Regions from separate parts of the Homo sapiens genome. Here all the other regions are linked to region 1. Evidence: fine-mapped expression QTL. A gene starts in region 1. Each other region holds a variant in brackets. All regions are shown on one strand. Distances are from middle to middle. Region 1 holds the start of SYT3 (synaptotagmin 3). Region 2 has its middle 10 kb from the start of SNAR-F. Region 3 holds the start of MIR4750 (microRNA 4750). Region 4 has its middle 11 kb from the start of SNAR-A4.

Region 1 (8,102 bases):
GGTCTGTCCTGGACTCTGCCCTGGGTGCCTCTTCCCTTTGCTGACTTCAGTCTGTATCCTTTCACTGTCATAAACCATAACCATGAGTATAACAGTTTCCAGCCAGGCGTGGTGGCTCATGCCTGTAATCCCAGCACTTTGGGAGGCTGGGGCGGGTGGATCACTTGAGGTCAGGAGTTCGAGACCAGCCTGGCGAACAGGATGAAACCCTGTCTCTACTGAAAATACAAAAAATTAACTGGGCGTGGTGGCAGACGCCTGTAATCCTAGCTACTCTGGAGGCTGAGGCAGGAGAATCACTTGAACCTGGGAGGTGGAGGATGCAGTGAGCCGAGATCCCACCATTAATTACACTCCAGCCTGGGCAACAAGAGTGAAACTCCATCTCAAAAACAAACAGACAGACAAACAAAAACAGTTTCCTGAGTTCTGTGAGTCAATGATTCTAGCAAATCATTGAACCTGAGGGTGGTCATGGGCACCTCCAGACTACAGTGCTGTACTAGACTATGCAGGATTCAGTTCTGCCTCTGCTACCATTGAGCCTCTGGGCAAGTGACTGCTGCTCTCTCGGCCTTATCCCTCATGACTGTCACCTGGACATCCTGCACATGAGGTGCCAGACCCTGCCCTGGTGCTCAGCAAGTGTGACTGTGGTTGTAATCACTCAGCACATGCTTCCTCTGGTCACCGTTTCCTCATCTGGACAATGGCACTCATAATGTTTCCTCATTCCCAGAACCCTGCTGCTTTCTAGCTGTGTGACCTTGGACAGGTCACTTCACCCTTCTCAGCCTCAGTTTCCTCTGTTGAAAATGGGGATTATATGTTCCACAAAGGGTCACTGTGAGTAATCATTGAGATGTGCAGAGGACCTCGCATGCTGCCTGGACCACAGTTGGTGCTCAGTAAGTGAATCCCAGCATTGTTCTAAGTTCTTCGTAGGTGTTATATCATTTAAGTCTTTCATCTGCTCTATGAAGCATCCCTTTTATTATCCCCATTTTCCAGATGAGGAGACTGAGTCCCAGAAGAAGAGTCACTTACCTACAGCCATGCAGTTATTAATAAAGTGAGGGAGATGGGACTTGAACCCAAACAAGTCAGTCTGACTCAAGAGCCTGACATTTGCACAAGATGCAGAGAGATATCTGAAGGGGGCATTTGGTGGTGGTAGTCGGAGGGAGGCCCACAGGGCAAAACTCAAAAAGCAGACCACACAGCTCCTTCCCCTTGGATCAGAGATTTGGGAGAAGGGCAGCAGCAGGCAGAATGGGGGCAAGACGCTACGAGGGACTGACCCCACAAGCAATGGAAAGCTGAGCAGTTCTGCTCCGAGTCTCCTGGCCATAGTGCAAGCAGGGGGCTGGCCAAGACAGGCAGGGGTGCTGACCTGCATCTGGACCCCGGGGATAGCCTCGGATTCGGTCATTGAACTCCTGGCACCTGTCGTTGGTGTCAGCATCTCGGACCCGCGCACAGAGGTCCGAGACCAGGATGAGTGCCCGCCGGCAGAGGTCATCCTCGTAGTCTCCTGACATGGTGGCCGTCTGGTCCTGTGTGTGGGAGGGATGGGGCAAGGGTGCAGATGGGAAACAGAATGGGAGTGCAGGGTGGGCAGGTGTGGAGATAAGGGTGGAAAGAGACACCGAGAAAAGGAAGGATGGGCAAAGGGGACAGAGATTAGGGGCAGATGGATTAGGGATGGAGATTCGAGGAAGAAGGACAAGGTGACAGGTATTAGGGATGGACAAGGAAAAGGAATTAGGAGTAGACAGACAAGAGGGCAGAAATTAGGGATGGAGATAGTAGCAGGGACTGGGTAAGTCAAGGGGACAGAGATGGGCATGAGTGGAGTAGAGGACAGAGAACAGGGACAAATGAACAAGGAGGAAGAGATGGAGAAGGGCAGTGAAGGGGCTAAGAATGAGGATGCACAAATAAAGGGATGGACAGATGAGGAAACAAAGATTAGGGCTGCACAGATGAAGGAACAGGAGTTAGGGATGAGCAGACAAGGTGCCAGCCATTCATCATTCATTCATTCAACAAACATCCATCCAGCACCAACTACGCCCTACGTGCTGTGCTGGTTGCTGCGAATCCAGCAGAGAACAAGGTCCTGGAGTTCCCTGACCTCCCGGTGTCACAATCCAACGAGAGGAGACATAGAGTAAACAAGCAAACAAAAACACATACACAAACCGGTCACTGTCAGACTGTCTGTGAGAAGCGCTCCACAGGACACAGCTGGAGAATGTGTCACAAAGGAACTCAGAGGGGGGCGGTCAGGGAGGGCTCTCCCAAACCTGAAGGATGACATGGAGCCAGCCACAGGCGGGGGGCAGTGGCGCCAGGATGGGAAAAGCATTTTAAAGAAAAGCATTTTAGACAGTAGGAGCAGGATGACAGGGGCTTAGGGTAGGAAAGCAGTTGGAGGGTCCAGGGACCAAGGAGGCCAGACTGGGGTAGACGCGGGGAGGGCCAGGAGAGAAGGATGGATGTGGGTAGAGAGATTGGAGGTGGATAGGTATGGTGGGAGCTGGGGGTGGAGAGGTGGAGATGCAGAGATGGGGACCAAGTTGAGGGAGGGAGAGATACAGGGAGGGGAGACAGAGATAATGTGAAGGGCAGACTGAGGCTCCGAAGAGATGGAGAGGTGAACAGGCAGGCAGAAGGAAAGTCAAGGATTGAGACTTGGGATGGACAGTGACAAGGAATGAACCGAGATGTAATTAATTCACGGGGGCTTGAGAGACGAGAGGACGAGAGACGGTGAAGAGGGGCAGGCAGGAGTGTGGGCAGAAATATCTTTGAAAGAGAAACGGTCGAACGGGAGGATGGATGGGTGGGCAAGGACAGCAGATGATGGCTAGAGATCGCAGATAGACAAAAGGAGACAGGAGGGCTGGGCAGACAGACATGGGTTCATAAGGGAAGGTTCAATGAGCACATAAATGAGAGGAGGCTAGGAAGGAGAGGTGGATGTGGGGAGAGGGGGAATTAGTGACACATGGCTCGGAGCCAGGCATCAAGATGGGTTGAAGGGGATGCAGGGGAATTAGGAACAGACAGACCAGGGCTCACAGATGGACAGGTGTCGTGGGGGTGCTGCAGAAGGCCAGGACTCCAAGACAGGCATGGCCACACTCACCTGCGCTTATCTCTGCCGTGTCCTGGGTGGCAGCCGAGGCGGCGGCGGGCGGCAGCCCATGGGGGTTCTAGGGCGGACAAGGGGCTGTGGACCCGTTCCCACGCGCCGGGTAATGAGAGAGAATGTCTGATCTAGGGGCTGAGGCCGGGAGAAAAAGCTCAGCTTAACAGTCACATCTTGCCCTACTCGAGCCAGCTGCCCGACCCCAGGCGACCCACTGGGAGCCCGGCCACCCCCTCCCACCTCCGGGCCCCCAGCTCCCGTTGAGGGCTTAGAGACTACAATTCCCGGCAGGTCTCGCGCTCGCGCTGCTGCGGCTTCATAGACCCGGCGCTGCAGGATCTGCTGGGAGTTGAAGTCCTTAATGCCTCCGGGCTGCAGAGAGGATGGGATTTTTTTTTTTTTTTTAAGGTTTTGGGGGGTTAAGATGCTGGGGTCCCAAGACGCTTCAGGGGAGGGGAACGATGTCCGGGACTTCGAAAAGCCACGGAGCCCTAAGTCCTTAGGGGCCACGGAATGAGGAAACGATCCCCCCGCGCTGGGGATCGGTGGGCGAGGGGTGGGATACACCCAGGTGTTTCGGGACCCCCTTCCAGGGCCACGTGCCCCTCCCCCGGGGTGGCCAGAGAGCGCTGCAGCGCTCCCACTCCCCGGCCCGAGATCCACGCGCCTCTGCATCTACCCCGCCCCCATGCGCCGGGGCCGACCCCAGGGATTTGACTGGGGCTGGGGCTGTGGCAGGAGGAGGGGGAGGAGCGGACTCACCCGGAGCCGCCGCTGCCGCCGCTGCCGCCGCCGCCGCCGCCGCAGCCCCGCGCGCCAGCCGCGGTGCCGGCTCGGCTCCTCCCCTCGCCACTGTCGCAGGTCCGCGGCTCCTCCCCCTGCACCCCCTCCTTCCCCCACTCCGAACCCGCGGCAAGAAAGCCGAAATCACTTGGCCTCAGCAAGGAAGCAGGGAGATTGCCCGGGACTAAGGCAGCAGAGACCCAGTGGGTTTCCACACTGGGGACCCAGAGATCTAGGATCACGACGTGCTGCTTCTCCAGGGTCCGGGGGCCCAGTTCTCCGCCCCGCTATCTCACAGAGGTAGAAGTCCGGGGACCCCAGGCCCCTCTTCCCAGGAACCCAGGACTTCAGGCCCTCCAACCTGAGCCGCTCTGAAGGCCGGTGGTAGGAGCGGAAGCTGAGACTCAAAGGTACAGTGCCACAGCCAGGATAGAGGTACTAGCAGGGACCTGGGTTTGAATCCCACCTGGGCCAACTCCTGCCTGTGTGCGCCTCTTGCTCTGAGGCCCCGTTTCCTCATCAGCAAAATACACACCATAAACTTATTTCCTAAGGGATCCACAGTTTGAAAAACCGGTCAGTGTAGACAAAACATTGGTACCAACTAGGTACTTAATGAATATTTCTCAAAAGTAGTGAGTAACAGTTTCTGGTATATTAATAGCAGTTAATGGCAATTGTCATTTCCTATAAGTGGTGAAGTGCTAAGTGCTTTGAAAGCGTTTTCTCATTTAATTTTCACTTGGGTGCAATTATGACATTCCCATTTCACAGAGGAGACAACTGAGGCCCATGGAGGTTAAATCCCTTGGGTAAGGTCTAGATCAGGGGTGTCCAATCTTTTGGCTTCCCTGGACTGCATTGTTGTCTTGGGCTACACATAAAATACACTAACAGTAACAATAGCTGATGAGAAAAAAAAAATCACAAAAAAATCTCATAATGTTTTAAGAAAGTTTACAAATTTGTGTTGTGCCGCATTCAAAGCTGTCCTGTGCTGCATGCGGGCCTCAGGCCATGGGTTGGACAAGCTTGATCTAGATCTACATAGCCTGGAGAGGTGGCTCGGAGGCCCCCTCAGTGCTCTCAATCAGTGACATCCAAATAAATACAACCTCTAGGTAAAAATCAAAGGCTGGGCTGACACCTGTAAATCCCAACACTTTGGGAGGCTGAAGTGGGAGGATCCCTTGAAGCCAGGAGTTTGAGACTATCCTGGACAACGTAGGAGACTCCATCTCTACAAAACAAAAAAACCAAAAAACCAAAACAAAACCAAACTAGTGGGTGTGGTGGCGTGCACCTGTAGTCCCACCTACGCAGGAGGCTGAGGTGGGAGGATTGCTGGAGCCCAGGAATTTTTTTTTTTTTTTTTTTTTTTTTTTGTGAGACAGAGTCTTGCTCTGTCGCCCAGGCTGGAGTGTAGTGGCGCGATCTGGGCTCACTGAAAGCTCCGCCTCCCGGGTTCACTCCATTCTCCTGCCTCAGCCTCCTGAGTAGCTGGGACTACAGGCGCCTGCCACCGTGCCCGGCTAATTTTTTTTGTATTTTTAGTAAAGACGGGGTTTCACCGTGGTCTCGATCTCCTGACCTTGTGATCCACCCGCCTCGGCCTCCCAAAGTGCTGGGATTACAGACGTGAGCCACCGCGCCCGGCCTAGCCCAGGATTTTGAGGCTGCAGTGAGCTATGATTGCACCACTGCATTCCATCCAGCCTGGGCAACAAAGCAAGACCCCCATCTCAAGAATAAATAGCCAGGTGCGGTGGCTCATGCCTGTAATCCTAGCACTTTGGGAGGCCAAGTGGGCGGATCACTTGAGCTCAGGAGTTCAAGACCAGCCTGGGCAACATGGCAAAACCCTGTCTCTACAAAAAATACAAAAATTAGCTGGGTGTGGTGATGCATGCCTGTAGTCCTAGCTACTTGGGGGGCTGAGGCAGAAGGATCACTTGAACCCAGAAGGTGGAGGTTGCAGTCAGTGAGCCAAGATTGTGCCACTGGGCTCCAGCCTGGGCGACAGAGTGAGACCCTGTCTCAAAAATAAACATAAATATGAATAAATAAATAAATATTTAGAGCAAGAAATAAAAATGTCAAAATAAGTAAGTAAATAAAAGTAAAAATTGCTTGCTGCTTCTGCAAATACAACTTTAAGCACGCATCCTGGGCCCTCCCTCTAATTAGATTACACCCTACCCCTATTGCTGCCTATGTGTACATTTTGCAGCCATTATACTACCACAGAACCCCCAGAAATGCCTCCCAGGTTTGCCGAGTCTCTTCCTTGTGGCTTCTTGCATCCCCCCAGATGGATGTGTGTTTACATCCAGGGAAGCATGTGCGGGTGTAAACCTACAGACCACGAGTGCAGGTCCCCATGCCAACTCTAACAGCCCGACCCTTGAACCCTGCTGGGCCTGCCCAGGGTCCACAGGTAGCCCTGTTCCACAGGGAGAGACACGCAGTGATGCACACACTCAGAGATGGGCACACAGATGGGCTTGCCACGCTGCCATGACACGTTTCCAAAGAGACGCTCGGATTCCGAGGCTGCCCAGGCATTGAGAGGCAGCCGTAGTGCACTGGTTTTCTGTGTGACTTTGGGGGCAGAGCACTGGGATTCAAATCCCAGCTCTGCTCCCCTCTCTATGCAACCTTGGAGGGGTTACTTAGATTCTCCATGCCTCAGTTTCCCTCTCTGTAAGTGCAGATAATAATACTTTAAAAAATCATACTCTGGCTGGGTGCAGTGGCACATGCCTGTAATCCCAGCACTTTGGGAGGCCGAGGCTGGCAGATCACCTGAGGTCGGGAGTTTGAGACCAGCCTGACCAACATGGAGAAACCCCGTCTCTACTAAAAATACAAAAATTAGCCGGGCGTGGTGGCACATGCCTGTAATCTCAGCTACTTGGGAGGCTGAAGCAGGAGAATCACTTGAACCCAGGAGGCAGAGGCTGCAGTGAGCCAAGATCATGCCATTGCACTCCAGCCTGGGCAACAAGAGTGAAACTCTGTCTCAAAAAAAAGAAAGAAAGAAAAAATCATATTGTATCTCACTGGGTTATTTTGAGGGTTAAATTAAATTCATGGAAGGTGCTTAGGAAAAATGGCTAGTGTTTAGTGTTGTCATAAATAAAAATTAAATGCATTTGCTCATTTAAACTTTAGCTGGACTTGACAAGTGAGGAAATTGAGGCTCACCAAGGGAAGCGCTCTGCCCAAGATCACACATCTGGAAAGTGTGAGTGGAGATTAAAAACTGTATGGGTCTGGACCAAGTGCAGTGGCTCACACCTGTAATCCCAGCACTTTGGGAGGCCAAAGGTGAGAGGATCCTTTGAGCTCAGGAGTTGAGACTTGCCTGGACAACATAGTGAGACCTCATTTCTACAAAAAATACAAAATTTAGCCGGGCATGGTGGCACACACCTGTAGTCCCACCTGCTTGGGGGGAGGCTGAGGTGGGAGGATTGCTTGAGCCCCAGAAGTCGAGGCTGTGGGGAAATGGAGGCTGCCCAGAGTCCCGTCCTTGTGCCTTCTTGCATCCCCCCGGATGGATGTGCGTTTACATCCAGGCTGGAGTGCAGTGAGCCATGATCGTGCCACTGCACTCCAGCCTGGATGTCAGAGTGAGACCTTGTCTCAAAACACAAAAAGAAAAAACAAAAAACGGAGTGGATCTGAATCCAGAGCCCTTGCCTTTAGCCACCATGCTGTTTGCATCTAGGACCCATTTGAGGACTTGCATGCTACTGCTGCTAGGAGTATAGAACAATATAAAGAACACCGGACAGGGAGCCAGGAGACAGAGATAGAATCTTCCATATTCATTCAACTCGATTCATGCAGTCATTTGAGAAATACTTTCTGAGCACCTAATGTGTGCCAGGCATTTTTTTTTTTAGACAGCAGGGATTCATCTGGGAACAAAATAGACTAAAATTCCAGGGTTGGAAGAGCTCATGGTCTAGTGGAAGAGACAGAAAATAATCAAATAACTACACATACTAGGATCCTCATACTAGGATCAATGCTAGGAAGGAACATCCATTGTGCTGTGTGTTTGAGAGAGGTCAGAGAAGTTCCTGAGCAAGTGACTTTTCAGCTGAGCTCAGAAGGATGAGTAGGCATAAGCCAGGTGGTGAAGATGAGGGAG
Region 2 (8,102 bases), 25 kb before region 1:
TTCATGTTTTGGATTTTCACCATTCTAATAGGTGGTTGTCGTATGTCATCGTTGCTGTAATTTGCAATTTCCTAATGACATTTGATGTTGAGCCCCGCTTTTTTTTGGAGACGGAGTCTTGCTCTGTCGCCGAGGCTGAAGTGCAATGGCATGATCTCGGCTCACTGCAACTTCTGCCTCCCAGGTTCAAGTGATTCTCCTGTCTCAGCCTCCCAAGTAGCTGGGATTACAGGCATGCGCCACTACGCCTGGCTAATTTTGTATTTTTAGTAGACATGGGGTTTCTCCATGTCGATCAGGCTGGTCTCGAATGCCTCGCCTCAGGTGATCTGCCCACCTTGGCCTCCCAAAGTGCTGGGATTACAGGTGTGAGCCACCACGCCCGGCCCAAGTACCTTTTATTTATTTGTTTGTTTGTTTATTTATTTATTTTAAGAAACAGGGTCTCTGTTGCCCAGGCTGGAGTACAGCAGTGCAATCATAGCTCACTGCCGCCTCCAACTCTTAGATCCTCCTTCTCAGCCTCCCCAGTAGCTGGGACTACAGTTGTGTGCTGTCACACCTGGCTATTTTTTTATTTCTATTTTTATTATTTTATTTATTTATTTATTTAGAAACAGGGTCTCGCTCTGTCATCCAGGCTGGAATGCAGTGGCACTGGAATCTCTGCTGACTGCAACCTCTGCCTCCTAGACTCAAGTGATCCTCCGACCTCACCTTTCCAAGTAGCTGAGACCACAGGTGTGCAACACCACACCTGGCTAGTTTTTTGTATTTTTCGTAGAGATGGGGTTTCACCACGTTGCCTGGCTGGTCTTGACCTCCTGAGCTCAAGGGAATTACCAGCTGTGGCCTCCCAAAGTGCTGGGATTGCAGGTGTGAGCCACCACATCTGACCTTTTTATTTTTATTTTTTGTAGAGATGGCGTCTCAGTGTGTTGCCTAGGTTGGTCTGAAACTCTTGGCCTCAAATGATCCTCCTGCCCCAGCCTCCCAAAGTGTTGGGATTATAAGCGGGAGCCACCACACCTGGCCAACTATCTTTTTATTTACTTATTTGCCATCTGCATATCTTCTTTGTTGAAGTGTCTGTTCAGATCTGTTCCCTATTTTTAAATTGGGTTGTTTGTTTTCCTATTGTTGAGTTTTAGTTCTTTGTATACCAGCTTTCTTTTTTCTTTTTCTTTCTTTCTTTTTTTTTTTTTCAGACAAAGTCTTGCTCTGTTGCCCAGGCTGGAGTGCAATGGCGCAATCTCAGCTCACTGCCACCTCCGCCTCCCAGGTTCAAGTGATTCTCTTGCTTCAGACTCCCGAGTAGCTGGGATTACAGGCGCCCACCACCATGACTGGCTAATTTTTGTATTTTTAGTAGAGACAGCATTTTGCCACGTTGGCCAGGCTGGTCTCAAACTCCTGACCTCAGGTGATCCGCCCACCTCGGCCTCTCAAAATGCTGGGATTACAGATGTGAGCCACCACACCTGGCCTGGATACCAGCTTTTTGTCTGAAAGGTGTTTTGAAAAGATTTTCTCACAATCTATAGCTTCTCTTTTTGTTCTCTTAAACATCTGATTTTCCTATCACTCCTCCCCATGCAAAATATACATTTTTTAACTGGATCTTGCCAGGGATTTCAGAGTGAGAACAAGAGTCAGACCTGGCCAATCTGAGTGCTTCATGACCTTGGTTATGATGTGCAGTAGTTTGGATGTATGTCCCATCCAATTTTTTTTTTTTTTTTTTTTGAGACAGAGTTTTGCTTTGTCACCCAGGCTGGAGTGCAGTTGCACAATCTTGGCTCAGTGCAACCTCCACCTCCTGGGTTCAAGTGACCCTTCTGCCTCCGCCTCCTGAGTAGCTGGGATTACAGGCACATGCCACGCCCGGCTAATTTTTGTATTTTTAGGAGAGACGGGGTTTTCCCGTGTTGGCCAGGCTGCCTTCTAAATTTCGTTGTTGAAATTTGATCCCCAATGTTGGAGATGGGGTCCTAATGAGAGGTGTTTGGGTCACAGGGGTGGACCCCTCACAAATAGATTAATGCCCTCCCTGGGAGTGTGGGTGAGTGAGTTCTTCCTCCATTAGTTCCCATTAGAGTTGGTTGTTAAAGAGAGGCTGACACTTGCCTCTCTTGCTTCCTCTATTGTCACGTGATCCCTGCTTTCTTTCTCCTTCCACCAAGAGTAGAAGCAGCTCAAGACTTTCTCTGTATGCCCAATCTTCCAGCCAGAAGAATCATAAGCCAAATACACCTTTTTCTCTTTATAAATTACCCAGCCTCGTGGATCACTTTAGGTCAGGCGTTCGAGACCAGCCTGGCTAACACGGTGAAACCCTGTCTCTACTAAAAATACAAAAAATTAGCCAGGTGTGGTGGCGGGCACCTGTCATACCAGCTACACTGGAGGCAGGAGAATCACTTGTACCTGGGAGGCGGACATTGTAGTGAGCCAAGATTGCACCACTGCACTCTAGCCTGGGTGACAGAGCAAGATCCTGTCTCAAAAAAAAAAAATAAATAAATAAAAATAAAAATTACCCAGCGTCAGGTTTTCCTTTATAGCAAGACAACATGGACTAAGACACATGGTTACTATAGAAATGGACATGTGACCCAAGTTGGACCAATGAGAGCTAACCTTGAGACTTTGGTATCACCATTCAGGAAAGCAGTACCTCTTTTCTGCTAGGTTGTTAAAATGATAGTATGGAAACTTTGAGCTGCTGTGGGCCCTGTTTGTCACCGTGAGGGAAGAGATTCTGCCTGAGAGGAAAGTCAAGATACAGAAAAGTAAAGCCCAGATGGGAAATGAGCTGTATTGCTAAAGATTCATTTTAGTGCCTGGATCCAGTTATGCCTGAAGCTAGTTATACAGCTCGGTTCTATAAGTCAACAAATTCCCTTTGTTAAAAACAAAAAAAAGCCAGAGTACTTTCCAGAGAGCAAGGCTTATTATAATAATAATTAAAGCAGCATACTCTTGCGAGGAAAAACAAATAGGCCAAAAGAACAAGACGGAAAAATCAGGAAAAGTTCACACATATATGGTAACTTGGTTTATGACAAAAGCAACATTTCAGTGCAGTGAGAAGCAAAAGATGATCTTTTTGAATCAATAGGGCTGAGCCAGTTGATAGCCATATGACCTCTACCTCACACCATACACAAAAATTGATTCCAGATGTGTTGTAGATCTAAATGTTAAAGCTTAAACAATAAAACTTCTAGAAGAAAATATCATAGAGTATCTTCAGAACCTTCAGGGTAAGAAAATATTTCTTTTATTTACTTGTTTGTGTTAATAGAGATAGGGTCTCGCTATGTTGCCCAGGCTGGTCTCGAAC[T/G]CCTAGGCTCATGTGATCCTCCCTCCTCAGCCTCCCAAAGTGCTGAGATTACAGGCATGAGCCAGTGTGCCTGGCCAGAAAATATTTCTTAAACCAGAAACAAAGGAGCCTTAACTATAAAGGAAAATGTTGATAAATTGGACTATATTAAAATAGAAACTGATCCTTATCAAAAAATACCACTAAGAGAATGAAAAGAGAAGCCAGAGAGTGGGAGAAGAATATGTATTCTAACAAAAGACTCATAAGAAAAATAAAGAAAGAACTACTAACCTGTTTTTTAAAAAAGGCAGAAAAACCAGTCAAAAAGTGGACAAATGGCGTGAATTGACATTTCACAAAGTAGCATATTCATATGGCCAATTAATATTTGAAATGGTGTTAAATTTCTTTCTATTTTTTTTTTTTTTTGAGACTGAGTCTCGCTCTGTCTCCCAGGCTGGAGTGCAGTGGCGTGATCTTGGCTCACTGCAAGCTCCGCCTTCCGGGTTCACGCCATTCTCCTGCCTCAGCCTCCTGAGTAGCTGGGACTACAGGCACCCGCCACCGCGCCCAGCTAATTTTTTGTATTTTTAGTAGAGACGGGGTTTCACCGTGGTCTCGATCTCCTGACCTCGTGATCCACCCGCCTCGGCCTCCCAAAGTGCTGGGATTACAGGCATGAGCCACTGCGCCTGGCCCGAAACGGTGTTAAATTTCTTTAGGCATTGGGCTAAAGGTAAATTAAAACCATAATAAAACACGGCTACAGCCCCACCAGAATTGCTAAAATTGAAAGGACTAACAATACCAAATGTTGGCGAGCAACTGAAATTCTCAGAGACTGCTAGTGGGTGTATAAATGGAGAAAATTAGTTTGAAAACCTGGTTGGCAGTGTCTATGAAGGATGAACATGAAGCTGGGAATGGTGACTCACGCCTGTAATTCCAACACTTCGGGAGGCGGCAGATCACCTGAGGTCAAGACCAGCCTGGCCACTCCCATCTCAAAAAAAAAAAAAAGATGAACATGCACACACCATGTATACACCCTGGGACCCAGCAATTACACTTCTAGGTATATACCCAACAGAAATACAGAAATGCCTACATATGTTCACCAAAATTCAATGTATATAGCAGTACTATAAGTGATCATGCCAAATCAGAAGGCACCTAAATGTCAATCAACAGTAGAATGGATACATAGATTATTATGTATTCCCATAACACACTTTTTTTTTTTTGAGACAAGATTGTCCTCTGTCACCCAGGCTGTAGTGCAGTGGTGTGATCTCAGCTCACTGCAATTTCTGCCTCCCAAGCTCAAGCCATCCTCCCACCTCAGCTTCCCAAGTAGCTGAGATGACAGGCACGCACCACCACACCCCACTAATTTTTGTATTTTTTTTGTAGAGACGGGGTCTTGCTATGTTGCTCAGGCTGGTCTTGAACTCCTGTGCTCAAGCTATCTGCTTGCCTCACCCTCCTAAAGTGCTAGGATTATAGGCATGAGCCACCATGCCTGGCTCATAACACACTCTTATACAGCAATGACAATGAACAACCTCCAACAATCAGCAACTACATGGACAAATCTCATAGACGTATGATGAATAAAACAATTCAGGCCAGGTGCAATGGCTCACGCCTGTAATTCCAACACTCTGGGAGGCCGAGATGGGCAGATCACAAGGTCAAGAAATAGAAACCATCCTGGCCAACATGGTGAAACCCTGTCTCTACTAAAAATACAAAAAATTAGCCGGGTGTGGTAGTGCGCACCTGTAATCCCAGCTACTCAGGAGGCTGAGGCAGGAGAATCGTTTGAACCTGGGAGGCGAAGGTTGCAGTGAGCTGAGATCATGCCACTGCACTCCAGCCTGGTGACAGAGCGACTCTCCGTCTCAAAAAAAAAAAAAAAAAAAAAAGAGAGAATTCCAACACACAAGTCTCTATGCTTGTAGGATTCCAAGCAGATTAAGATAAAAAACAAGGCAAACTAACTTATGGTGTCAGAAATCAGGGTAGTAGTTACTTTTGAGGTAAAGAAGTGACTGACAAGGGGCCGGGCGCGGTGGCTTACGCTTGTAATCCCAGCACTTTGGGAGGCCGAGGTGGGCAGATCATGAGGTCAGGAGATCGAGACCATCCTGGCTAACACGGTGAAACCCCGTCTCTACTAAAAATACAAAAAAATTAGCCATGCATAGTGGCAGGCGCCTGTAGTCCCGGCTACTCGGGAGGCCGAGGCAGGAGAATGGCGTGAACCCAGGAGGCGGAGCTTGCAGTGAGCCGAGATAGCGCCACTGCACTCCAGGCGAGACTCTGTCTCAAAAAAAAAAAAAACACAAAAAAGTGACTGACAAGGAGCATGAGGGGTTTGGAGAGCTGGTAATGTTCTAGTTCCTGACCCAGGGCTGGTTACCCATGGTTACATGGTGTGCTCAGTCTGTTATCTGATCCATACTTACTGGGTATTTGTGAGTTTCTTTGTGAGTATGTTGTACTTCAATAATTGTTTTTTTGAAACTGGGTCTCTGTCATCCAGACTGGACTGCAGTGGCTCAACCATGGCTCACTGCAGCCTTGACCTCCTGGGCTCAAGCGATCCTCCCACCTGAGTAGCTGGGACTACAGGTGCACACCATGGCACTTGGCTATTTATATATATATATATATTTAAAGAGATGGAGTCTTGCTATGTTGCCAAGGCTGGGTCTCGAACTCCTGGGCTCTAGTGATCCTCCCATCTTAGCCTCTCAAAGTGCTGGGATTACAGGCATGAGCCACCGAGCTTGGCAATAATTTTTTAAAAGGCCAGTTTTTTGTCTCTTGAAAGTGGAGGAGTCTTGGCAAGTCCAGCAAATGGCATATACTATTTTGTTTCTCTTCCCTCCCCTTTCAAGTGAGAATTGTGATTGTTTTCTTGTTTTTCCTCCACTGTTATACACAGGGGTGGGTTGCTGAGGGGGCTACAATTTCATTTAACATTAATTTTTTTTTTAGATGGAGTCTTGCTCTGTCACCAGGCTGGAGTGCAGTGGCACAATCTCCGCTGACTGCAACCTCCGCCTCCCAGGTTCAAGTGATTCTTCTGCCTCGGCCTCCCGAGTAGCTGGGATTATAGGTGTGTGCCACCATGCCGGGCTAATTTTTGTACTTTTAGTAGAGACAGGGTTTCACCATGCTGGCCAGGCTGGTCTTGAACTCCTGACCTCAGGTGATCCACTTGCCTTGGCCTCCCAAAGTGCTGGGATTACAGGTGTGAGCTACCGTGCCCAGCCTTAACATTAATTTTCAGGATCAAGAGAGACTCCATGTGCCCTTGATGAAAGGAATAGCCAATATCCAGAAATCTTGGTCTGAGGATTGGATGTGGCTTTGGGATCCCTCCCTTTGCAGAAGGGGTGAAAGCTTCTGCAGTTGCACTAGAGATAGTTATGTTAGGTGGGAGTATTAGTTTTAGCCAACTTTATCAAAATATAATTTGTGTACAAGAAAATGTATCAATATTTCAAAAAGATATTTGCAACACACTTTCATAGCAGCATTATTTACAATACCCAAAAGGTGAAGGAGGCAACCCAGCTGTTCATCAACAAATAAATGGTTCGACAAAATGTGGTATATACACATAATGGATTTTTTTTTTTGAGATGGAGTCTCGCTCTGTCGCCCAGGCTAGAGTGCAGGGGTGCGATCTTGGCTCACTGCAACCTCCGCCTCCCAGGTTTAAGTGATTCCCCTGCCTCAGCCTCCCGAGTAGCTGGGACTATAGGCGCCTGCCACCACGCCCGGCTAATTTTTTGTAGTTTAGTAGAGATGGGGTTTCACCATGTTGACCAGGATGGTCTCGATCTCCTGACCTCGTGATCCGCCTGCCTCTTCCTCCCAAAGTGCTGGGATTACAGGTGTGAGTCACTGTGCCTGGCCCATAATGGAAAATTATTTAACCTTAAAAAGGAAGGAAATGCTAACACATGCTACAACATGGGTGAAGCCTGAGGACATTCATGCTAAGTGAAACAATCCCATCACAAAAAGACAGATGCTGTATGATTCCACTTACATGAGGTACCTAGAGTAGTCAAATTCATAGGGAATTTCCCAGAGAGTAGAACGTGCTTCCCAGGGGCTGGGAAGGGAAGGCAGTGGGAGTTGCTTGATGGGAACAGTTTCAATTCTACAAGAGGAAAGAGTGGAGATGAGTAGGGGTGATGATTGCACAACAATGCAACTGTACACTTAAAATTGGCTAAGTCCTGGGGAGGTGGCTCATGCCTGTAATCTCAGCTACTCTGGAAGCTGAGGCAGGAGAATCGCTTGAACCGGGGAAGTGGAGGTTGCAGTGAGCCAAGATCATGCCATTGCACTCCAGCCTGGGCATTGCAGCGAGACTCCGTCTCAAAAAAAAAAAATTGGCTAAGATGATAAAGTTTGTGTTATGTGTATTTTGCAACAATGTACAAGAATTTAAATGAACCAATTTTAAGCGCAATGAATTTTGACAAATGTATTCGGTTGTGTGATCACTTCCATCATCCGGAAAGTTTCCCTGTGTCCACTAGTAATCAGTCTCTCCATAACCACTGCCACTGCCCCCAGTCAACCACTAATCCATTTTCTGCCCCTGCGTATTAGCCTTTTCTTTTCTCTTTTCTTCTCTTCTCTTCTTTTCTTTTCTTTTACTCTGTCACCCAGGCTGGAGTTCAGTGGTGTGATCTCAGCTCACTACAACCTCCGCCTCCCAGGTTCAAGCCATTCTCCTGCCTCA
Region 3 (8,102 bases), 750 kb before region 1:
CCCAGCTGTTGGGATCGGCTGAGGCACAAGAATCACTCGAACTGGAGTGGGGGAGGTAGCAGTGAGCAGAGATTGTGCCATTGCACTCCAGCCTGGGCAACAGAGTGAGACCTTGCCTCAAAAAAAAAAAAAAAAAAAAAAAAGGTCGGGTGTGGTGGCTCACGCCTGTAATCCAGCACTTTGGGAGGCCAAGATAGGCAGATCACCTGAGGTCAGGAGTTCGAGACCAGCCTGGCCAACATGGTGAAACCCCGTCTCTACTAAAAATACAAAAATTAGCCGGGGGTGGTGGCGAGCACCTGTAATCCCAGCTACTCAGGAGGCTGAGACAGGAGAATCACTTGAGCCAAGGTTGCACCACTGCATTCCAGCCTGGGCGACAGAGCGAGACTTTGTCTCAAAAAAAAAGAAAAAAGAAAGTTAAAGTTGCTGTTTGATATCATTGTTTTTCTTGAGTGCAGATGGTGATGATAATAAGTTAAACTTATTCATGAACATTTCCTCGATGCTTTAGGACCCCCGGGGGAGGGAGCTGAGATACTCTGTCCTCACCTTACTGATGAGGAAACTAAGCCATAGAAAAGCATCACCTCCTAGGGCACAAGGACAGAGGCTGCCTCTGGGTCATTCAAAGTCTTCTGAAACATCACTTTTCTTGACTGCGCGGCATTGTGTCCACCTGCAAGATGTGGTAGATTTGATGTAACTTGACCTGCTGGAGATTCGGGTCCTTTGCAGTTTTTCATCACGGTGCATAGTCTGGGTAATTTCTTCTTTAGGTTCACTTCCAAGAAGTGGAATTTTGTTCAGGACAGTGCTTGTTTTCACACAGCTTTGGAGAGTTTGTCCTCCGTTGTTACTTTCCTCAAAGGTTAGAATGCTCAGACTCTCACTTTCATTTGAGTTAACTTGGGGGGAAAAAAAGGTTCAACACCAGCTTAATTTTTTTTTTCTTTTTGAGATGGAGTCTCGCTCTGTTACCCAGGCTGGAGTGCAGTGGTGTGATCTCGGCTCACTACAACCTCCACCTCCCGGGTTCAAGCGATTCTCCTGCCTCAGCCTCCCAAGGAGCTGGAATTACAGGGGTGTGGCACCATCCCAGCTAATTTTTGTATTTTTAGTAGAGATGGGGTTTCACCACGTTGGCCAGGCTGTATTTTTAGTAGAGATGGGGTTTTACCATGTTGGCCTGGCTGGTCTCGAACTCCTGACCTCAGGTGATCCACCCGCCTCACCCTCCCAAAGTGCTGGGGTTACAGGCGTGCGCCATCGCACCCGGCCTTCAGCTTAAATTTTTGCTACAGCGTATCTAGGAGTGTCAGTTCCCTTAGCGCTCACCAGCAGCGGGCAGAGGTCTGTTTCGTCGGGCGTGCTGGGCGTCCTGCCTCCCTTCCATGTCCATGGCAGATGTGGAAGTATAATAGCACACTTCCTCTGGAGAGTGGGAGGAAGGAGGGGCAGGGCCCGCGTTCAGGGCTGCTCCTGCCTCACCTCCGAGGTTCCCCAGCCAGGCATAAGTCACTTGCCTAGACTTGGGGAAGGTCTTCCAGTCAGGATGACTTCTCAAACTCTCAGTCCCAGCGCTGGGCAAGGCTGAGTGGGCTCCATGTCATCCCCCAGATTCCCAGGACTCCGGCTCTCTCTGCTTCTGTTTCCGGTGGCTGCTCATCTGGTTCAAGAGGGAATTCCCCTTCCCGGATGTCCTTCGGCTGTGGGAGGTGGGCCAGCCAGTTTGGGCGAGAGGCCTGAAGGGGTGGGCTCACCTGCCCTGGGAGGTTGGGCGGAGAGGGACAGACCCTGGTGGGACCTCAGGCCCAGGCTGGGCTATGACCTCCCTCCCTCCCTCTGTCCCGCACCCTCAGGTGCTGTGGACAGGGCTCCCTGGCCCCAATCTGCACCTGCTGGTGGCCTGCGCCATCCTGGACATGGAGAGGGACACCCTCATGCTGTCCGGCTTCGGCTCCAATGAGATCCTCAAGGTGAGGCTCCGGCCCCGCCCCCGCCCTGTCCCCCCTGAGCTGGGCGCTGCCCAGGGCCGCAGTACCTCCGGGGAGCAGGTGTTTAGTGTGGGATTATTGAAAGCCTGGTTAGTTGGGAGCGCAGTGGGGGTGGGGCCGCGTAGGTTTCCCTTCTGCCCCATGCCATGCCTGCTCCCAGCAAGGTCCTCCGGGCAGGTGGGTGGGGACCTTCCCTCCCCGAGTACGTGCTCAGAATGCTCCCGGAGGCCTGAGAAGCATGTCTCGCCCAGCGCACTTCTGAGCCCCCAGAGGGCCAGCCCGGTGTGTCTTCATTGTTTCCCAGCACGAAGCACAGAGTGGGCGCTCGGGCGGAGGTGGTTGAGTGCCGACTGGCGCCTGACCCACCCCCTCCCGCAGCACATCAACGAGCTGACTATGAAGCTGAGCGTGGAGGACGTGCTGACCCGCGCCGAGGCCCTGCACCGCCAGCTAACCGCCTGCCCCGTGAGTCCCCGTCCGCCCCGCAGCGCCCCGCCCGAACCCCGACCGACCCCCGCCCCCTTCTCACCTTCACCTTCCGCTTTTCGCTTCTCTCATCCCGTGCCTCCAGGAGCTGCCCCACAACGTGCAGGAGATCCTGGGGCTGGCCCCGCCCGCAGAGCCCCACAGCCCCTCGCCCACCGCCTCCCCGCTGCCTCTGTCGCCCACCCGGGCCCCGCCCACCCCGCCGCCCTCCACGGACACAGCCCCGCAGCCCGACAGCAGCCTGGAGATCCTGCCCGAGGAGGAGGACGAGGGCGCCGACTCCTAACCCCGCCAGGCAGCCTCGTTCTGCACAGGCACTTTAGCCCGAGCCAGGCACACCTGCGAGGGGGCAGGTGTGCTCCGCCGCCCTGCTGATAAGCTGGCTTCATTAAACTGACACTTCTCATGTGCAGTTGGCTTCTTGTTGGTGGGGGGAAGGCTGCCAAGTGGGCTCTGACCTGGTTGAGGAGGGGATGGTGGCTGGGCAGAGCCTAGGGTGAATGATTGGGGTTTGTGGAGGCAGGGCTTCCTGAGTTGCCTGATTTGTTTTTTTGTTTGTTTGTTTTATGAGATGGAGTCTTGCTCTGTCGCCCAGGCTGGAGTGCAGTGGCAGATCTCGGCTAACTGCAGCCTCCGCCTCCCGGGTTCAAGCAATTACCCTGCCTCAGCCTCCTGAGTAGCTGGGACTACAGGCGTGTGCCACCACACCCGGCTGATTTTTGTAATTTTGGTAGAGATGGGGTTCCACCATGTTGCCCAGGCTGGTCTTGAACTCCCGACCTCAGGTGATCTGCCTGCCTTGGCCTCCCAAAGTGCTGGTATTACAGGCGTGAGCCACCGCGCCCGGCCTGATTTGGGGTTTTTGGAAGAGGATAGGGTGCTCTGGGCTGTGGCGGCGACCTGGTAGCTGTGTGGGAACACTTCCCGGACATAACCAAGGTGGAAGGGCCTGCAGAGATGCACTCTGGGGAGCCTGCCCTCCCAGCTGCTGCTTGTGAGAAAAATCACCTCCTGTTCAGCCACTGTCAGCTGGGCTTTCTGTTACTTGCATTAGGGCCCATCTGGACTTCAGCCTCGTGACAGAGGTGGTCGCTGTGATTGCCATTTCCCGGTGGTGCAGGGCGTCCTTCCGGTTCCCTCTGTGCGCACCACCCCCCACCCTCCTCTGGAGCCCCACTGTCCAGGAAGAAGTGAGGGGCAGATTTT[T/TG]GGGGGGGCTCCAGGATGGGCGTGGCGCCTGCTAACTGCAGGGCTAGTGGTTCCGATGCAGGCAAACTGGGGAAGTAACTGAGCCACGGGGGAGGCTGGACCACACGGCTTTTTCCGAAAATACTTTAATGCGAGGTCCTCGTGTGGGTCGTGTTTTGGAGAGATAACTGGCCTTGGACTGGAGGGTGGCTGCCTTCTTCCTTTGCCAGGTCATGCGAGGGGCTGCTGGCCACCCCATGCACATGCCCCTGCCCCTCCATGTCAGATGCGTGCCCCTCGGGGCTGGCCGTGTCCGATGCAGGCCCCTTCCGGCTGTTGATCTTGATGGCGGCGCGCAGCGCCGACTTGACCGCCGTCTCCACCCAGCCGTGCGGGTAGGCGGTGTGCTCGCCGGCAAAGTAGATGCGGCCATAAGGGACCGTCCAGTCATCCTTTTCGGTTTGCCAGAGCGCCGGCGGCTGTACCACAAAGCCACCCTGGCTGTGCTGGTCCTCCGCCCAACGCTTGACGACGCCGGTGCCGTCCCAGAGCTGGCGCACGACAGGCCCGTGCAATGCCGCCACGTCGTCGAGCGCCAAGCGCAACGCCTCTTCCCGGCTCAAGCCGGCGAACGCTGCCGCCGCGTCCGACCACGTGTACGAGGCCAGCAGCAGCGCGCCCTCGCGCGGCGGCGGGTAGAAAATCATGCGCGACGGGCGATCGGTGTTTGAGTGGCCGCCTTCAATGTGCTCCTCGCGCCAGAAGGGCCTGCGGAAGCTTAGGAACACCTTGGTGGCCGGCACGTAGTGCAGCCTCCGCAGCGCCTCCTGCATGTGGCGGGGCAGCGGCGGCGAGAAGGTGATGCGCTTCACCGCCGGTCCGCTCGCCGTCAGCAGCACCACGTCGGCCTTCAGCACCTTCAGATTCCGCGCCGGGGGAGAGGTCTCGATCTGCACGTGCACATCGTGCGGTCCCTGGGTCATCGCCACCACGGGCGCGTTCAACAGCACAAGCCCGGACAGCGAGCTCAGCAGCGCGCGCGGCAGCAGGTCCCAGCCACCCACGATGCGGCTGTACCTGCAGGCGGGGCGGGGCGGGGTGGGGGCGTGACCTGGGCTCTGCGGCCCTGCCCCTCTGCCTTGCCCCACCCACCCCGGCAGCTGGCCCTTATGGGCACCGGCCCGCTCCCCCGTCATCCACCTCTCCCGACCCCGCCCGTCCCTGACATCCCAAAGGCCGCAGGAGTAGTGGATTGTGTCACCAGGGACCCCACCACTTCTCCCCTAGGCCGTGTCCTTTATCTGGGAACCCTTAGCCCCGCGACCATCAATTAGGCCACGCCCTTCACAACAGCCCCGCCCCCAGACCCAGAGGCTCCTCCCACTCCCTGCTACTTTCCCTGATTGCCCCCCGCCCCCCCCCCCTGCCCGCCAGCCCCGCCCCTTACTGGAGTCTGTCGCTGAGGCAGCTGTGGGCCCGGAGGGCCTCGGCGAAGCTGAGATAGAAGAAGCCATCCTCGGACATCACGTCTCCCAGAAGCTGCACGGCCGGCCGGCTCAGGTTCCCCTCCCCGAGAAGATATTCCTGCAGGTTGGGCACAGGCCGAGGTTAGGGCCCAGGCAGGCTGCACCCCTGAGAGAGCCCCTCCGCAGCTGGGCCTCCTGGTCCCATGACATGTCCTTGGACCGTAGGATCCTGTCCCCACTCTCTGACAGATGAGGGAAACGGAGGTCCAGACAGGGGGCGTGTCCAGCCCCCGGGTCAGGCAGGAAGGCGGTGGCAGGACTAGGGTGCCAGGTACCCGCCTTCTGACTCTCTGGGGAAGGCCTCATGGTCACTCTCTTTGCCCTGCATCTCAGCAGAACCAAGATCCCCACTTACCAAGAGCGTGTGCCTTTCAAACTTCTTCATCGCCTTTCTGCAGCCCAGTGCCTTGAGGTCTTTGAGGGCCTGTTGTGGAAGAAGCAGACATGGTGCTGAGCTGCCCGGGCAGCCAGGGTGGAGGCCGGGCCTGGAGCCCACACTCGGCTTCTCCTCGTGGTTCTGCCCACGGCTGGCCATTCACCACTCTCAAGCCCCTGGGCTTTTGCCCACACCATGCCCTCCGCCTTGCCCTCCACGGCAACTCAGATGCCACTGCTCCTCCGATATTACCGAACTGTTAACGCCGCCCATCCCCCCTCATTCGGCTGGCCCGGCTGGTCACAGCTCATCCCGGTTGCGTGTTATTTTGCCTATTTTTCAGCCAGCCAGCCAGACTGTGAGCTCCATGGAGGCAGGGATGTGGGCAGCTGGAGAGGAGACTGGGAGAGGGTCCCAGGCGTGCTGTGTCCTCCCGGGGGCTCAGTGATTATTTGTTGCCTGAATCACTGTGGCCACGGACAGAAGCTGGTCCCCTGTGCCACTGGTCAGTGCTGACAGGGCATGATGGCTGAGAAGTTTATCTACCGTCCGTCCCCTGCCCACAGCCCTCCTGTAGCTCCCCAGTGCCTGGAGCCACAGAATTCTTGCCCCTCAGCCTCATGTTCAAGGCCCCTGCTAGCCCCTCAATGTCTTTTTTTTTTTTTTTTTTTTTTGAGATGGAGTGTCGCTCTGTTGCCCAGGCTGGAGTGCAGTGGCGCCATCTCAGCTCACTGAAACCTCTGCCTCCCAGGTTCAAGTGATTCTCCCACCTCACCCTCCCAAGTAGCTGGGATTACAGGCGCCTGCCACCACACCTGGCTCATTTTTGCATTTTTAGTAGAGACAGGGTTTCATCATGTTGGTCAGGCTGGTCTCGAACTCCTGACCTCAAGTGATCTGCCTGCCTCGGCCTCCCAAAGTGCTGGGATTACAGGCGTGAGCCACTGCGTGCCAGGTACCCGCCTTCTGACTCTCTGGGGAAGGCCTCATGGTCACTCTCTTTGCCCTGAATCTCAGCAGAACCAAGATCCCCACTTACCTCAGTCCATGTCTTTTATGGCAGCTCTGGTTCTGTGAACAGTGTACAGTGCCCAGACCACCTGCCCTCAGGGCTCTCCCACCTACACATCTGGCACCTATTGTTTCCCTGCCTGTCTTTGCGTGGCACATGAGTGCGTGTTCTTCAGCACTTTGTTCGAATCTCACCCCCTCCCAGAAGCCTTGCTGCCCCCATCTAATTTCAGCCTTCTTCTTGGTCCACCTGGCTTCCCCCTTCTGGCCAGGACCTCAGAGGGAAGGCAGTGCCCCTTCACTCACTCATGCATCTCGCATCTCTCAGACTCCCAAACCAGTCAGTGTCAAGGCATAGAAATGACCTGGACATGGCCCCCATCCTGGTCTAGAAGGGGAGATGGGCAAGTGGGCTCTGACCTGGGTGGGGAGGGGATGTTGGGTGTGGCCAGTTCCTCCCTAAAGGTATCAGGGAAGGCTTCCTGGAGGAGGGGACATTGGAGCTAGTTCTTGAGGGCTGAGCAGGAGTTCCTGTGTGGGGAAGGGAAAGGCATTCTGGAAAGGGAGGGTGATACACAGGTATAGTGGGTGTGAGGAACACAGAGCTGGGGGCATGTGGACCACCATGAGGACAAAAATTTCTTAGAGGAGAAAAGAGCATGAGGCTGGAGGGGTGCAGAAGGGAAGGCCAGTCAGGGCTCAAAGCTGAGCCTGAAAAGATCAGACTTTGTCCTGGAGGCAGCGGGGAGCCACTGGGGGCTGTGAGCAGCATCACTCTGGGTGTGTGGGAAGACGTTTCTGGTACCAGGCTGGGGAGACTAGAGCCTGGGCAGCTTGAGAGGAGGCTGGGGGAGGGTCCAGGGCAGAGGAGGAGGCCTGAGCTGGGGCAGGCAGAGGGGAGCAGGGCACAAGCGTCAGGCGGCAGGGGTGGGCACTGATGGTGGGGGAGGTGGGCGAGGAGGAGGTCAGGAGGAGGATGGCTCCTAGGGGTCTGCCCGTGACTGCGGGATGGTGGGGCCATCGTGAGATGGGGGCACCGGGAGGAGGAACAGGTTTAGGGGAAGCTTCTGAGCCCAGTGTCCTGGGGAGGGACACAGATCAGGGTCTCGGGAGGCAGATGTCTCCATCAGCCCATGGATCTATGTTTAAGCCAGAGGTGGAGACTGGGGAGGTTATCCAGGACAGTGTGTGGGTGAAAGGGGAAGAGGCCAAAAGCTGATGCAGCTTTGGGGTCAGCAGTGTTTACGGGGAAGCTAAAGAAGGGAGTTGGGGCCGGGGGCAGTGGCTCACGCCTGTAATCCCAGCACTTTGGGAGGCTGAGGCAGGTGGATCACGAGGTCAGGAGTTCAAGATCAGCCTGGCCAAGATGGTGAAACCCCGTCTCTATTAAAAATACAAAAATTAGCTGGGCGTGGTGGCGGGCGCCTGTAATCCCAGCTACTCGGGAGGCTGAGGCAGAGAATTGCTTGAACCTGGGAGGCGGAGGTTGCAGTGAGCTGAAATGGCGCCATTGCACTCCAG
Region 4 (8,102 bases), 560 kb before region 1:
CCTGTAGTCCCAGCTACTCTGGTGGCTGAGGCAGGAGGATCACTTGAGCCCAGGAGTTTGAGGCTGCAGTGAGCTGTGATGGCACTGCTGCCCTGCATCTCAAAAACATGATGCCGTGTGATACAGCCAGATACAAGGGTATATGCTGTAGGATTCCACTTTTGTGAAATTGTAGAAAGAAAACACTAATATGGGCGGGGCATGGTGGCTCACGCCTGTAATCCTAGCACTTTGGGAGGCTGAGGCAGGCGGATTACTTGAGATCAGGAGTTCAAAAGCAGCCTGGCACCTGTAATCCCAGCTACCTGGGAGGCTGAGTAGGAGAATCGGGAGGCGGAGGTTGCAGTGGGCCGATCATGCCACTGCACTCCAGCCTGGGCAACAGAGTGAGACTCCAACTCAAAAAAGAAAGAGAGAAAGAAAGAAAGAGAGAGAGAGAGAGAGAAGGAAGGAAGGAGAGAGAGACACAAAGAAAGAAAGAAAGAAAGAAAGAAAGAAAGAAAGAAAGAAAGAAAGAAAGAAAGAAAGAAAGGGGCCAGAGGCCAGGCACGGTGGCTCACCCTGTAATCCCAGCACTTTGGGAGGCCGAGGCAGGTGGATCACGAGGTCAGGAGTTCAAGACCAGCCTGGCCAACATGGTAAAACCCCATCTCTACTAAAAATACAAAAATTAACCGGGTGTGGTAGCGAGTGCCTGTAATCCCAGCTACTTGGAAGGCTGAGGCAGGAGAATGGCTTGAACCTGGGAGGCGGAGGTTGTAGTGAGCTGAGATCACACCACTGAACTCCAGCCTGGGTGACAGAGTAAAAGAAAAGAAAAGAAGAGAAGAGAAGAAAAGAGAAAAGAAAAGGCTAATACGCAGGGGCAGAAAATGGATTAGTGGTTGACTGGGGGCAGTGGCAGTGGTTATGGAGAGACTGATTACTAGTGGACACAGGAAAACTTTCCGGATGATGGAAGTGATCACACAACCGAATACATTTGTCAAAATTCATTGCGTTTAAAATTGGTTCATTTAAATTCTTGTACATTGTTGCAAAATACACATAACACAAACTTTACCATCTTAGCCAATTTTTTTTTTTTTTGAGACGGAGTCTCGCTGCAATGCCCAGGCTGGAGTGCAATGGCATGGTCTTGGCTCACTGCAACCTCTGCTTCCCCGGTTCAAGCGATTCTCCTGCCTCAGCTTCCAGAGTAGCTGAGATTACAGGCATGAGCCACTTTCCCAGGACTTAGCCAATTTTAAGTGTACAGTTGCATTGTTGTGCAATCATCACCCCTACTCATCTCCACTCTTTCCTCTTGTAGAATTGAAACTGTTCCCATCAAGCAACTCCCACTGCCTTCCCTTCCCAGCCCCTGGGAAGCACGTTCTACTCTCTGGGAAATTCCCTATGAATTTGACTACTCTAGGTACCTCATGTAAGTGGAATCATACAGCATCTGTCTTTTTGTGATGGGATTGTTTCACTTAGCATGAATGTCCTCAGGCTTCACCCATGTTGTAGCATGTGTTAGCATTTCCTTCCTTTTTAAGGTTAAATAATTTTCCATTATGGGCCTGGTGCAGTGGCTCACACCTGTAATCCCAGCACTTTGGGAGGAAGAGGCAGGCGGATCACGAGGTCAGGAAATCGAGACCATCCTGGTCAACATGGTGAAACCCCATCTCTACTAAACTACAAAAAATTAGCCGGGCGTGGTGGCAGGCGCCTGTAGTCCCAGCTACTTGGGAGGCTGAGGCAGGGGAATCACTTAAACCTGGGAGGCGGAGGTTGCAGTGAGCCAAGATCGCACCACTGCACTCTAGCCTGGGCGACAGAGCGAGACTCCATCTCAAAAAAAAAATCCATTATGTGTATATACCACATTTTGTCGAACCATTTATTTGTTGATGAACAGCTGGGTTGCCTCCTTTACCTTTTGGGTATTGTAAATAATGCTGCTATGAAAGTGGGTTGCAAATATCTTTTTGAAATATTGATCCATTTTCTTGTACACAAATTATATTTTGATAAAGTTGGCTAAAACTAATACTCCCACCTAACATAACTATCTCTAGTGCAACTGCAGAAGCTTTCACCCCTTCTGCAAAGGGAGGGATCCCAAAGCCACATCCAATCCTCAGACCAAGATTTCTGGATATTGGCTATTCCTTTCATCAAGGGCACATGGAGTCTCTCTTGATCCTGAAAATTAATGTTAAGGCTGGGCACGGTAGCTCACACCTGTAATCCCAGCACTTTGGGAGGCCAAGGCAAGTGGATCACCTGAGGTCAGGAGTTCAAGACCAGCCTGGCCAGCATGGTGAAACCCTGTCTCTACTAAAAGTACAAAAATTAGCCCGGCATGGTGGCACACACCTATAATCCCAGCTACTCGGGAGGCCGAGGCAGAAGAATCACTTGAACCTGGGAGGCGGAGGTTGCAGTCAGTGGAGATTGTGCCACTGCACTCCAGCCTGGTGACAGAGCAAGACTCCATCTAAAAAAAAAATTAATGTTAAATGAAATTGTAGCCCCCTCAGCAACCCACCCCTGTGTATAACAGTGGAGGAAAAACAAGAAAACAATCACAATTCTCACTTGAAAGGGGAGGGAAGAGAAACAAAATAGTATATGCCATTTGCTAGACTTGCCAAGACTCCTGCACTTTCAAGAGACAAAAAACCGGCCTTTTAAAAAATTATTGCCAAGCTCGGTGGCTCATGCCTGTAATTCCAGCACTTTGAGAGGCTAAGATTGGAGGATCACTAGAGCCCAGGAGTTCGAGACCCAGCCTTGGCAACATAGCAAGACTCCATCTCTTTAAAAAAAAAAAAAAAAAAATATATATATATATATATATATATATAGCCAAGTGCCATGGTGTGCACCTGTAGTCCCAGCTACTCAAGAGGCTAAGGTGGGAGGATCGCTTGAGCCCAGGAGGTCAAGGCTGCAGTGAGCCATGGTTGAGCCACTGCAGTCCAGTCTGGACGACAGAGACCCAGTTTCAAAAAAAAAATTATTGAAGTACAACATACTCACAAAGAAACTCACAAATACCCAGTAAGTATGGATCAGATGACAGACTGAGCACACCATGTAACCATGGGTAACCAGCCCTGGGTCAGGAACTAGAACATTACCAGCTCTCCAAACCCCTCATGCTCCTTGTCAGTCACTTTTTTGTGTTTTTTTTTTTTTTTTGAGACAGAGTCTCGCCTGGAGTGCAGTGGCGCTATCTCGGCTCACTGCAAGCTCCGCCTCCTGGGTTCACGCCATTCTCCTGCCTCGGCCTCCCGAGTAGCCGGGACTACAGGCGCCTGCCACTATGCCTGGCTAATTTTTTTGTATTTTTAGTAGAGACGGGGTTTCACCGTGTTAGCCAGGATGGTCTCGATCTCCTGACCTCATGATCTGCCCACCTCGGCCTCCCAAAGTGCTGGGATTACAGGCGTGAGCCACCGCGCCCGGCCCCTTGTCAGTCACTTCTTCACCTCAAAGGTAACTACTACCCTGATTTCTGACACCATAAGTCAGTTTGCCTTGTTTTTGATCTTAATCTGCTTGGAATCCTACAAGCATAGAGACTTGTGTGTTGGAATTCTTTTTTTTTTTTTTTTTTTTTTTTGAGACGGAGAGTCGCTCTGTCACCAGGCTGGAGTGCAGTGGCATGATCTCAGCTCACTGCAACCTTCGCCTCCCAGGTTCAAACGATTCTCCTGCCTCAGCCTCCTGAGTAGCTGGGATTACAGGTGCGCACTACCACACCCAGCTAATTTTTTGTATTTTTAGTAGAGACAGGGTTTCACCATGTTGGCCAGGATGGTTTCTATTTCTTGACCTCGTGATCTGCCCATCTCGGCCTCCCAAAGTGTTGGAATTACAGGCGTGAGCCATTGCACCTGGCCTGAATTGTTTTATTCATCATACGTCTATGAGATTTGTCCATGTAGTTGCTGATTGTTGGAGGTTGTTCATTATCATTGCTGTATAAGAGTGTGTTATGAGCCAGGCACGGTGGCTCATGCCTATAATCCTAGCACTTTAGGAGGGTGAGGCAAGCAGATATCTTGAGCACAGGAGTTCAAGACCAGCCTGAGCAACATAGCAAGACCCCGTCTCTACAAAAAAAATACAAAAATTAGTGGGGTGTGGTGGTGCGTGCCTATCATCTCAGCTACTTGGGAAGCTGAGGTGGGAGGATGGCTTGAGCTTGGGAGGCAGAAATTGCAGTGAGCTGAGATCACACCACTGCACTACAGCCTGGGTGACAGAGGACAATCTTGTCTCAAAAAAAAAAGTGTGTTATGGGAATACATAATAATCTATGTATCCATTCTACTGTTGATTGACATTTAGGTGCCTTCTGATTTGGCATGATCACTTACAGTACTGCTATATACATTGAATTTTGGTGAACATATGTAGGCATTTCTGTATTTCTGTTGGGTATATACCTAGAAGTGTAATTGCTGGGTCCCAGGGTGTATGCATGGTGTGGGCATGTTCCTCTTTTTTTTTTTTTTTTTGAGATGGGAGTGGCCAGGCTGGTCGTGACCTCAAGTGATCCGCCGCCTCCCAAAGTGTTGGAATTACAGGCATGAGTCACCATTCCCAGCTTCATGTTCATCCTTAATAGACACTGCCAACCAGGTTTTCAAACTAATTTTCTCCATTTATACACCCGCCAGCAGTCTCTGAGAATTTCAGCTGCTCGCCAACATTTGGTATTGTTAGTCCTTTCAATTTTAGCAATTCTGGTGGGGCTGTAGCCGTGTTTTATTATGGTTTTAATTTACCTTTAGCCCAATGCCTAAAGAAATTTAACACCGTTTTGGGCCAGGCGCAGTGGCTCATGCCTATAATCCCAGCACTTTGGGAGGCCGAGGC[G/A]GGTGGATCACGAGGTCAGGAGATCGAGACCACGGTGAAACCCCGTCTCTACTAAAAATACAAAAAATTAGCTGGGCGCAGTGGCGGGTGCCTGTAGTCCCAGCTACTCAGGAGGCTGAGGCAGGAGAATGGCGTGAACCCAGAAGGCGGAGCTTGCAGTGAGCCAAGATCACGCCACTGCACTCCAGCCTGGGAGACAGAGCGAGACTCCGTCTCAAAAAAAAAATAAGAAAGAAATTTAACACTGTTTCAAATATTTATTGGGCATATGAACATGCTACTTTGTGAAATGTCAATTCACGCCATTCGTCCATTTTTCGACTGGTTTTTCTGCCTTTTTTAAAAAACAGGTTAGTAGGAGTTATTTCTTTATTTTTCTTATGAGTCTTTTGTTAGAATACATATTCTTCTCCCACTCTCTGGCTTGTCTTTTCATTCTCTTAATGGTATTTTTTGATGAGGATCAGTTTCTATTTTAATATAGTCCAATTTATCAACATTTTCCTTTATAGTTAAGGCTCCTTTGTTTCTGGTTTAAGAAATATTTTCTGGCCAGGCACACTGGCTCATGCCTGTAATCTCAGCACTTTGGGAGGCTGAGGAGGGAGGATCATATGAGCCTAGGAGTTCGAGACCAGCCTGGGCAACATAGCGAGACCCTATCTCTATTAACACAAACAAGTAAATAAAAGAAATATTTTCTTACCCTGAAGGTTCTGAAGATACTCTATGATATTTTCTTCTAGAAGTTTTATTGTTTAAGCTTTAACATTTAGATCTACAACACATCTGGAATCAATTTTTGTGTATGGTGTGAGGTAGAGGTCATATGGTTATCAACTGGCTCAGCCCTATTTATCCAAAAAGATCATCTTTTGCTTCTCACTGCACTGAAATGTTGCTTTTGTCATAAACCAAGTTACCGTATATGTGTGAACTTTTCCTGATTTTTCCGTCTTGTTCTTTTGGTCTATTTGTTTTTCCTTGCAAGAGTATGCTGCTTTAATTATTATTATAATAAGCCTTGCTCTCTGGAAAGTACTCTGGCTTTTTTTGTTTTTGACAAAGGGAATTTGTTGACTTATAGAACCGAGCTATATAACTAGCTTCAGGCATAACTGGATCCAGGCACTAAAATGAATCTTTAGCAATACCGCTCATTTCCCATCTGGGCTTTACTTTTCTGTATCTTGACTTCCCTCTCAGGCAGAATCTCTTCCCTCACGGTGACAAACAGGGCCCACAGCAGCTCGAAGCTTCCATACTATCATTTTAACAACCTAGCTTATCATTTTAACAACCTAGCAGAAAAGGGGTACTGCCTTCCTGAATGGTGATACCAAAGTCTCAAGGTTAGCTCTCATTGGCCCAACTTGGGTCACATGTCCATTTCTATAGTAACCATGTGTCTTAGTCCATGTTGTCTTGCTATAAAGGAAAACCTGACGCTGGGTAATTTTTATTTTATTTTATTATTTTTTTTTTGAGACAGGATCTTGCTCTGTCACCTAGGCTGGAGTGCAGTGGCGCAATCTTGGCTCACTACAATGTCCGCCTCCCAGGTACAAGTGATTCTCCTGCCTCCAGTGTAGCTGGTATGACAGGTGCCCGCCACCACACCTGGCTAATTTTTTGTATTTTTAGTAGAGACAGGGTTTCACCATGTTAGCCAGGCTGGTCTCGAACTCCTGACCTAAAGTGATCCACGAGGCTGGGTAATTTATAAAGAGAAAAAGGTGTATTTGGCTTATGATTCTGCTGGCTGGAAGATTGGGCATACAGAGAAAGTCTAGAGCTACTTCCACTCTTGGTGGAAGGAGAAAGAAAGCAGGGATCATGTGACAATAGAGGAAGCAAGAGAGGCAAGTGTCAGCCTCTCTTTAACAACCAACTCTAATGGGAACTAATGGAGGAAGAACTCACTCACCCACACTCCCAGGGAGGGCATTAATCTATTTGTGAGGGGTCCACCCCTGTGACCCAAACACCTCTCATTAGGACCCCATCTCCAACATTGGGGATCCAATTTCAAGAACGAAATTTAGAAGGCAGCCTGGCCAACACGGGGAAACCCCGTCTCTCCTAAAAATACAAAAATTAGCCGGGCGTGGCATGTGCCTATAATCCCAGCTACTCAGGAGGCGGAGGCAGAAGGGTCACTTGAACCCAGGAGGTGGAGGTTGCACTGAGCCAAGATTGTGCAACTGCACTCCAGCCTGGGTGACAAAGCAAAACTCTGTCTCAAAAAAAAAAAAAAAAAATTGGATGGGACATACATCCAAACTACTGCACATCATAACCAAGGTCATGAAGTACTCAGGTTGGCCAGGTCTGACTCTTGTTCTCACTCTGAGATCCCTGGCAAGATCCAGTCAAAAAATGTATATTTTGCATGGAGAGGAGTGATAGGAAAATCAGATGTTTAAGAGAATAAAAAGAGAAGCTATAGATTGTGAGAAAATCTTTTCAAAACACCTATCAGACAAAAAGCTGGTATCCAGGCCAGGTGTGGTGGCTCACATCTGTAATCCCAGCATTTTGAGAGGCTGAGGTGGGCGGATCACCTGAGGTCAGGAGTTTGAGAGCAGCCTGGCCAACGTGGCAAAACCCTGTCTCTACTAAAAATACAAAAATTAGCCTGGCATGGTGGTGGGTGCCTGTAATCCCAGCTACTCGGGAGGCTGAAGCAAGAGAATCACTTGAACCTGGGAGGCGGAGGTGGCAGTGAGCTAAGATTGCGCCATTGCACTCCAGCCTGGGCAACAGAGCAAGACCTTGTCTGAAAAAAAAGAAAAGAAAGAAAGAAAAAGAAAAAGAGAAAAGAAAGCTGGTATACAAAGAACTAAAACTTAACAATAAGAAAACAAACAACCCGCTCCCTCTCCATCTCCCTCTCCCTCTCCCTCTCCCTCTCCCATCTCCCCACGGTCTCCCTCTCCCTCTCTTTCCACAGTCTCCCTCTCCCTCTCTTTCCACGGTCTCCCTCTGATGCCGAGCCGAAGCTGGACTGTACTGCTGCCATCTCGGCTCACGCAACCTCCCTGCCTGATTCTCCTGCCTCAGCCTGCCAAGTGCCTGCCATTGCAGGCACACGCCGCCACGCCTGACTGGTTTTCGTATTTTTTTGGTGGAGACGGGATTTCGCTGTGTTGGCCAGGCCGGTCTCCAGCTCCTAACCGCGAGTGATCCGCCAGCCTCGGCCTCCCGAGGTGCCGGGATTG

What was found. PIP is the estimated chance that this variant, and not a neighbour inherited with it, causes the effect.
Region 2: its variant is fine-mapped to the expression of SYT3 in aorta (GTEx, PIP above 0.99).
Region 3: its variant is fine-mapped to the expression of SYT3 in prefrontal cortex (GTEx, PIP above 0.99).
Region 4: its variant is fine-mapped to the expression of SYT3 in prostate (GTEx, PIP above 0.99).

The regions. Positions count from the first base shown.
Region 1 is chr19:50,635,871-50,643,972 of GRCh38, forward strand. It overlaps SYT3 (synaptotagmin 3), which reads right to left and starts at 4,011. Exons shown (of 11, transcript NM_001160329.2): 1 at 3,920-4,011; 2 at 3,155-3,292; 3 at 1,394-1,556. The coding sequence starts at 1,541. RefSeq lists an enhancer at 3,322-3,616.
Region 2 is chr19:50,611,038-50,619,139 of GRCh38, forward strand. No RefSeq gene overlaps it. Among named protein-coding and RNA genes, the nearest start is that of SNAR-F, 10 kb to the left of the region's middle. The variant T/G (reference allele first, on the strand shown) is at 3,347.
Region 3 is chr19:49,885,856-49,893,957 of GRCh38, forward strand. It overlaps TBC1D17 (TBC1 domain family member 17), which reads left to right. Exons shown (of 17, transcript NM_024682.3): 14 at 1,621-1,718; 15 at 1,863-1,979; 16 at 2,376-2,462; 17 at 2,569-2,895. The coding sequence ends at 2,769. IL4I1 (interleukin 4 induced 1) reads right to left here. Exons shown (of 8, transcript NM_152899.2): 6 at 5,550-5,618; 7 at 5,116-5,252; 8 at 3,799-4,745. The coding sequence ends at 3,815. MIR4750 (microRNA 4750) reads left to right here and starts at 2,320; the gene lies at 2,320-2,375. It overlaps LOC124904743 (a long non-coding RNA gene), which reads right to left and starts at 1,621. Exons shown (of 4, transcript XR_007067293.1): 1 at 1,339-1,621; 2 at 591-908. RefSeq lists enhancers at 4,224-4,891, 4,892-5,560, 5,561-6,227 and silencers at 4,267-4,436, 4,667-4,856. The variant T/TG (reference allele first, on the strand shown) is at 3,690.
Region 4 is chr19:50,077,930-50,086,031 of GRCh38, forward strand. No RefSeq gene overlaps it. Among named protein-coding and RNA genes, the nearest start is that of SNAR-A4, 11 kb to the right of the region's middle. The variant G/A (reference allele first, on the strand shown) is at 4,882.